Homo sapiens: one gene and its partner. The protein of the gene in region 1 interacts with the protein of each later gene in a biochemical or structural test. Each region holds a gene or a part of one and is shown on either strand. Other genes may lie near its edges.

Region 1 (3,912 bases):
TTTGGTAGAGATGGGGTTTCACCATATTGGCCAGGTTGGTCTTGAACTCCTGATCGAGGTCAGTTTTGATCCCCACTGTGCATAGTAGGTCCCATCTTGTTTCAGTGCCTGGGAATGGGGTAGGTGCTCTTAGCTCAAGGCCTTGCATTGTCTATAAGTGAGTGCCTGCTCTTGCCATCCAGGCCACAGTGCACCTGACTCCTATTGACCCCCTGGAGGGGTGGGTGTGTAGACCGACCAGGCCTGAGACCCAGTGACTTAGGTCGCAGGTCTTGAGGAAAGTCCCAGCTGGGCTCTTTTGGTGTAGCCCTGAGTGGTGAAAGCTCTAGGAGGGTGGGGGTTGCATTGGAGGTCACTGGGCACATGGGGACTTGGCAGAGGGGTGAAAGGCTAACACCCTCCTTGGCAGTCCCCCAGACAAGCTTGCCTGTCCCACCCAGGTGGGTGAGGCCCAAAGTTGCCCCTGCCTATCACCTGGGGTGGGGGCAGGGCCCCACATGGACTGGGAGTCCTGGCTGCCGCCCAGCTCCTTCTCCCTATCCCTGCTCCCTGTAGAACATTCTTGAGTCTTGGCAGGTGGCTGGGACTCTGACTTGCTTCTTCAGGGGTGGGATGGCTGCCTTAGGCCATATACCCTGGGTTCTTGCTTTTTGTTGTTGTTATTGTTGTTTTTTAAGAGACAGGGTCTTGCTCTGTCACCCAGGCTGGAGGGCTGGAATGTAGTGGCGTGATTATAGCTCACTGCAGCTTAGAATTGATCATAGCTCATTCCAGCCTGAAGAGCTGGTATGCACTGGCCCGATCATAACTCACTGAACTCTTGGGCTCAAGCGATCCTCCTGTCTTGGCCTCCCAAAGTGCTAGGGTTACAGGCTTCCCTGGGTTCTTGAAAAGGAGTGTTTCACAAGCTTCAGGCATTCAAGAACTGCCTGCGGATATCTTCCTTAATGCCTCTTCCACCACCACCTCCACACCTTAAGCCACTTAATTCACATGCACTTGGCATTTTATTTATTTATTTATTAGACACAGGGTCTCACTATATTGCCCAGGCTGGCCTCGAGCTCCCACTTCAGCCTCCCGAGTAGCTGGAATTGCAGGTGCATGCCCCCGTGCCTGGCATTCTTGACATTTTCTTTAAATCATCTCTTTTATATTTTTACTTCCACAAATTTGTGTAGAAAGAAAACTTCGTATCTCCTCTAGAAATGGAAAATCTGTATCCTTTGCCATAAATAGAAGGTGATCACAAACACCACTTCAGTGAAACTGAAGAAGCTCCAGCCCTATCACTGAAATGCAGCTTGGTGTGGTTGAGGTGATGAGCCTAGGGCCTGCTTTCTCTTTGTAGCGTGCTAGAAGGTATTACAAACATGGTAGCATCAACGTGGGACTTTCTCTTGACGCACCTAGAAGAGCTGGAAGACAGCTGTAATGGGCTGACGTGCTCACTCTGTGATTCACTCATTTTATGGGGTGTCCCTTTACCATCTAAAATCATCTCCATTCCCACAGTTCAGGAAGCTCTGCTCTCGTGACTAAGGATGTGAGAAGTTGGCTGGTCTGGGTGAGGTTGGGGCGGGAGAGATCAGGATTCCTAGTTGCAGCGGTGCCAGTACCACACAGATTTTCTTTCCATGAATCTCGCTGGCTGGTACTAGGATTGAACCTGAGTCTGTGGTCTTGGAACCTGGGCAGGAGTCTCCCAGGTGCTAACAGCTGCAGCCCCACAATCTGTGAGCACTCACTCTGTACCAGGCACTGAGCTAAACTTATTAATTCCCCAAACACCCAATGAGTCAAGTACTACCAGCACCCCTGTTAGACAGGTGGGGAAACTGAGGCTCAGAGCGAGAGGTGACTTGCCCAAGATTGCACAGTTGGTAAGTGAGGTTTAAGCTCGGATCTGGCTGGTGCCATCGCCCTGTGCTGGTGTGCTGCCTGTGGGCAGTGATGCTCTTGAAATGCTTTGCTCGGGGACCCCACACCTTGCCCCTTTTCTTCTCTGTGCCTTCTGGTCTTCTCTGTTGGGTCCTCCTGATCCGCCTGAGCCATGGCATCCCTAGTCCTCAGTCCTCGGAGCATCTCGTCCTTTTTCCACATTTGCCCCGTTAGTGACCTCATCTTGTCTCGTAACTGAAAATACCACCCACACGCTGATGACTTCCTACCTGGGCTGCTTACAGGCACGTGCTGCCACGCCCAGCTAATTTTTGTATTTTTAGTAGAGACAGGGTTTCACCATGTTGGCCAGGCTGGTCTCGAACTCCTGACCTTACGTGATCTGCTAGCCTCGGCCTCCCAAAGTGCTGGGATTACAGGCGTGAGCCACTGCGCCTGGCCCTGACTTCCTGATTCCGCTCTTCCTCCCTTTCAACCTTCCGCAGTGGCCCCAATGATCCCCTTTACAATGCAGTTCCTGCTGCATCATTCCTCTGCTCTGGCAGCCTTGTGTCTCACATCACCTGGCCCTCTGACCCTATCTGGCCTCCTCTCCTTCTATAATCCTGCTTGTTTCTTCTCTTTCAGCCATACTGGCCTCCTTGCTGTTCCTTGAACACACCAAGCCCATTCTGCCTCACTTGCGGTTCCTTCTGCTTGGAGTGCCCTTTCTTCAGGTCTCCACCCTGTTCTCCCACTAATTTCCATCATTTCCTTCCAGCCTCTGTTGAATTGCCTCCCCTAATCCCTCTCTCAAGAGTAGCACCTCTCACCCTCCCCAGGTCCTCTCCAGTCCTCATTTCCTAAGTTATTTCTCTCAGCAGCACCTCCTACCCCCTGACGTGTTCTATACCTACCCATTTTTATTTATTTACTGTTTATTTCCTTCTTCTAGAATTTAGGCCTATGAGGGTGGGGAACTTGTTTTTCTGCCTTTTTTTTTTTTTTTGAGACAGAGTCTCACTTTCTCGCCCAGGCTGGAGTGCAGTGGCGTGATCTTGGCCCACTGCAACCTCCGCTTCCCAGGTTCAAGCAATTCTCCTGCCTCAGCCTCCGGAGTAGCTGGGCTATAGGTGCACATCGCCACACCGGGCTAATTTTTTGTATTTTAGTAGAGATGGGGTTTCACTGTGTTGCCCAGGCTGGTCTTGAAACCCTGAGCTCAGGCAATCCACCCGCCTTGGCTTTCCAAAGTGCTAGGATTACAGGCGTGAGCTACCATGCCTGGCCTGTCTTTCTGTTTTCCCCCATGGTCCCAGGAATTAGGGGCACCTGGCACATCATGGGTGCTCAGTATGTATTGATGGAAGGAATGCAGTGTACACAGTGCTTCAGGGAGCCTGGTATTCCAGCCCTGTTTGTGCGGTTGCCTGTTTTCTCATGCCTTTCAGAGTCACTTCTTGAGTGTCATGATCCTGAACTTTTTATCGTGTGAATTCATTTGCTTGGTGACATGTATTGACACCTGCTTTGCACAGCAGCTGTTCTAGGCTGTGTATGTAGTGGTGAACGAGACCAACAGTGCCTGCCCTCTTGAAATCTGTTCTAGTTAGGAGTACAGACATTAATCATCAAACTGTACCACGATGAGGATTATGGAGCTTATAGGAGGGATGCTTCACCCAGCAAACATTCAAAATCTATTATTCACTGTGTATGTTTGAAGATGAAAGCAAAGCACTCACACCAAGCCCTAAAGTGAAAGGCTGGAGGGGTCTTCATGGGTTGGTTAGGCCAGCGCCTTACTTCTAAGGCAGAGTGACTCAGGGGCCTCTCAAGCCAGAAATGTGTCTGTTCTAATCCCCCCGCTTTCTGGAAAGCCCATTCTCTTGGTTTGAACGTGACGTGTGCAAATTCTGCCTCTGTTCCTGCTTTCAAATCCACTCGGCTCCTTAAGTAAGCCTCCTGCAGGCCGTTTTCCTGATTGCCTGGTGAACGGCCTGCACTTTGGGAAAATGCATCTGAGAAATT
Region 2 (3,912 bases), on another chromosome or scaffold:
TACCGTGATCTCGTTTAAGCTCATTAATTAAAGGACCTTAAGAAGAATTCTGCCAATACTAAAAAGCTTAGGAGTCATTTATATTAAATAGGCTTAAAAGTGACAAAACAGGTAATGTTCCTTTCCCAAAATAATCACAACTTTTAAAACGGAAAGGGGGTGGAAGAACCAGGAAAAATAAAATGAAACGTTTTAGAAAATTAAGCCAACTCCACAAACTTTAATTTCCGTCAACTTGATCACATCTTATACAGGAGACACCCCGGTAAATCCAGCTTTCTTAATGTGAATGAATGTTCCAAATGTTGTGGTGTGCCACTCAAAAGACCCCCATCCGTCTACAATGCATATGCTGGAGATAAATTCACCTCTGCTTCGATGCATTGGGTGCATTGTTAAGATGATTCCAGTGCAAATGAAGAAGCGATATCGGTCCCGTTAAAACTCATCTTCCAAGGAAGCGCAGGATGTTAACTAACAAGTCACCGTTCCAGACACCCCCACCCTCGTATGCACCCCCCTGAAGACAAATCAATGAAATATTTGCACCGACAATCTAAGTGCGGTAAGGGCATGCACTCATCAAGATTTTGCATACTACTTGTGGCCCAAAGCAAGAGGATGGAGAGAGGAAAAACTCTCCGGCGCCCCAGTCATTCGCAATCCGCTACCCAAGTGCCATTTATTTATTTATTTTATCAGACTGTTAAACGCAGCGCGCATCTTCGGGCGGCCATCACCTCACTCCGGGGTCATCCTCCTCCTCCTCCTGAATGGACCTTCTTGCCCAGGTCTAGGATATTTACATGGTCAACCTCTGGACCGATTAAATGGAAAGATAGGTCTATTCCGAAAAACTGGTCGCCATTTTGATGAATGATAAACACAGAAATGGAAATGTGTCGGGGACACCTAGGCGCGGGGCAGGTGCAGGGGAGGGGGCGCGGGGCAGGGGCGCAGGGGCCGCCGGGTTCGGGCTGGAGGTGTCCGGGCCGCGGGAGGGAGGGAGGGAAGGAGGGAGGGAGGACGGCGAGGGAGGGAGGCAGGGGCGGGCGGCGGGGGATGGGGCCAGCGGGGAGGTGGAAGCGATACCCACCGCCCGTATTGGTCCTCTTGGTGCTGCCGGCTTCAGGGGGGGCTTCCAGCGGCCTTTTCCGCGAGTCCGGCGGGTCCAGGTCTATGGGAACCCCAGTGTGGGTCCCGTTCTGCTGGATGGGAGCTGCCGCCATCATGTTTGCAGTTCCTGCCGCTGCTACCGGGAGAAGGTTCTCCCTTTTGTTTTGGCTTTTTCTTTTCTTTTTTCTTTTTTTTTTTTTTTTTTTTTTGCGTTTGGGGTTTCTTAAGGTTTTTTTTTTTTAATCGGATCAATATAAATCTCTTTAGGAAAAAAAGCAATGTTGCTGGTTTGTTCTCACTGGGGAGGGGGCAGGGCTGAGGAGCAGCTGCAGTGCAGTGTCAGAAAGGAGACAGGGGAATGGAGGGGGTGTGAGAGACGGAGGGTGAAAGAAGAAGAAGAAAGGAGACAGGGGGAGAGAGTGGAGAAGGGAGAGGGGCGAGTGAATGAGCGGGAGGAGGGGACCGGGGAGGACAGGCAGAGGGAGTGGGAGAGCGCGAGGGCTGGCGGGGCGCGGGGAGAAGCCGAGGAGGAGGGGAGAGTGAGGGAAAGAGTGAATGAGCAGGAGGAGGGGAAGGAGGTGGATGCCGAGAGAGGAGCGAGCGGCAGAGGAGGGCAGGAGCCGGGAAGGAGCGCGGCGGTCCCCGCGCCGCGCTAGCGTTGCGCTCGCTCCCGCTGCTGGTGCTGCCGCCGCCGCCGCTGCCGGAGCGGTTCTGCCGTTGCCTGGGCTGCTCGGCGCTGCTGCTGCTGCCGCCCGGTCTCGCTCATTATTTCTCCCGCTTGTTGGGGGGGGCTGGCGGGGAGGGAGGGGGGTGGCTGTGAGGGGAGGGTAGAGAGGGGTTGAGTTCGTAGACTCCCACACACTTCGCGCTCGGGTCCCTGCCTCTCAGCAGCGCCGCCGCCTCCCAGCGCCGATGCTTCAGCCGGCGGGGCGGCTGAGGGGTGAGGGGGAACTCCGCGGGCGGGGGCGAGGGAGCGTGTGTGCGCGAGCGTGTGCGCGCGCGAGGGGAGCGCGTGCGCGGTGAGGACGCGCGCCGGCGGTTGGGGCGGGGGCGGGGGCCGGGGCGCTCCTGTGGGAAGGGAGGGGTGAAAGGTCGCTGGTCCCCGGCAACACGGCTCAGGCAAACGTAAGCGGCTTGTCGCAGAAACCAAGGGGTCCACGAAACGCGCTAGGCTAGAAGGCGGGAAGGAGAGATTACTGACAGCCGTGCCAGCCAATAAAATAGAAATGTGAGAAAGGTTCTTCGGGCCCCTTCCCAATCAGGAAACTTGGGTGATGAGGGGCAGCGAAGGGGTGGGGTGGGATCTTGGTCCAGCTGGTACTGGAGCGGCGACAATTTTGGCTAGTCTAAGAAGGGCATTCGAGTGACCGTTGACAACGGGTGGGACAGCGTCAGAGCTGGAGGGAGAGCCAGCACTGTATGCTTCCAGGACTTCTTGCTAGGTGCATTAGTTTTTATTTTTAAGAGTTGGGTAAAAGACATTAATTAGTTAGCATCTCACTCATCGGCGATTTTCTACGGTATGATTTCATCCAAAGAGGATTTCTTAATCGCACTGTGTGACACCGTTAGGGGACTTAGAGTGTCACTCGCCGCCTTAAATCCTTTCGGGAACAAGCCAGGATATAAATAAATAAAGCTAGGTGTGGGTCTTCCCTTCACAAGGCGCTGGTAGGCAGACTAAAGACAGGCAACAGCTGAGTGTGCACACAGAACTAAATATTGAACGAAATACGAGTGTCGGAATAAAATTCATTGCCATGTGCACGGCTTATGATTATACAGATCTTGGACATATCACGGACCTGAACGTCAACCCTGCAACACCGGATAAAACATCTAATGTAGCTGGAATAGACTCTGAAAGGACGTTAGGCATTATCTAAATCAAGTCCCTCATTTTACAGATGAGTAAACTGACTCAGTGAAGTATTTTGCTCAAGGTCGTTCATCAAATTAGTAGTTTAATTAACTCAGTGTTCTAGGAAGCAGGGTAGTAGAAAAGCATGGGATTCGGAGTCTGAAATCTTCCTTGGTTTCTGGTCCTTGTAGGCTGTTTTACAAGTGTATCTTGGGCAAATCCCTTAACGTCTTGCCATTTATTAAGGGCTTACTTACCACGTGGCAAACAATCCACTTTGCATGCTGTGTCAATTACATGCAGTATGTCGTGTAGTTATTACTGTCCCCATTTTATGAGGTAGTTTAGGTTTAAAGATATTAGAAATTTACCCAAAGTTACGCAGTTATAAACATTGTAGTAATTTCAAACTCAGGTCTTCGTGACTGCAAAGGCTGCTGTCTTAAGTATTGTAATACATTAGAGCTCCGGATTCCCTCCCACTCAAAACAGAGACTGAGACTCCAACCAATTTCCACCATTATTGGGAGTCAAACGAGAGAGACTGTGGCAATGTATTCTAAGCTGTACAAAGGTATAAACATATTCACTAGATTTGTAGAATGAAGTTATTCCTTCCCTATACTTTCCACTACAACAATTCAGCCAAAAAGATGGCTTTCATACTAAGCATAAGAAGGAACTTCACTGTAATTATGATATTCTAACCAAGAATATATGCATATCTAGGCAATAACCAAAGTGAATAGAATAAAATTTAATTCCTGATAGATTAAATAGGCAATAGCAAGGAATGCTAACGCTCCTCATAGCGTTCTTGTTGGAAGAATCATCTAGGAGGCATTGGGATTTCTGGTGCTTTTTAAGCAATGAGAGATATCAGTCCACTGAATGAGGAAGAGAATAACGTTTAGTTTCGGACTAAAAGTTCATCT

The links.
Region 2: the proteins of HTR6 (region 1) and NOVA1 form a complex in vitro, tested with the Homo sapiens proteins (one study listed by BioGRID).

The regions. Positions count from the first base shown.
Region 1 is NC_000001.11:19,667,593-19,671,504, forward strand, and holds part of HTR6 (5-hydroxytryptamine receptor 6), read left to right. Parts: intron 1-3,912. UniProt on the Homo sapiens protein: G-protein coupled receptor for 5-hydroxytryptamine (serotonin), a biogenic hormone that functions as a neurotransmitter, a hormone and a mitogen. Also has a high affinity for tricyclic psychotropic drugs.
Region 2 is NC_000014.9:26,596,205-26,600,116, forward strand, and holds the start of NOVA1 (RNA-binding protein Nova-1), read right to left. Parts: upstream 1,830-3,912; 5' UTR 1,233-1,829; coding exon 1,097-1,232; intron 879-1,096; exon of another isoform or gene 394-878; coding exon of another isoform or gene 369-393; intron 1-368. UniProt on the Homo sapiens protein: Functions to regulate alternative splicing in neurons by binding pre-mRNA in a sequence-specific manner to activate exon inclusion or exclusion. It binds specifically to the sequences 5'-YCAY-3' and regulates splicing in only a subset of regulated exons.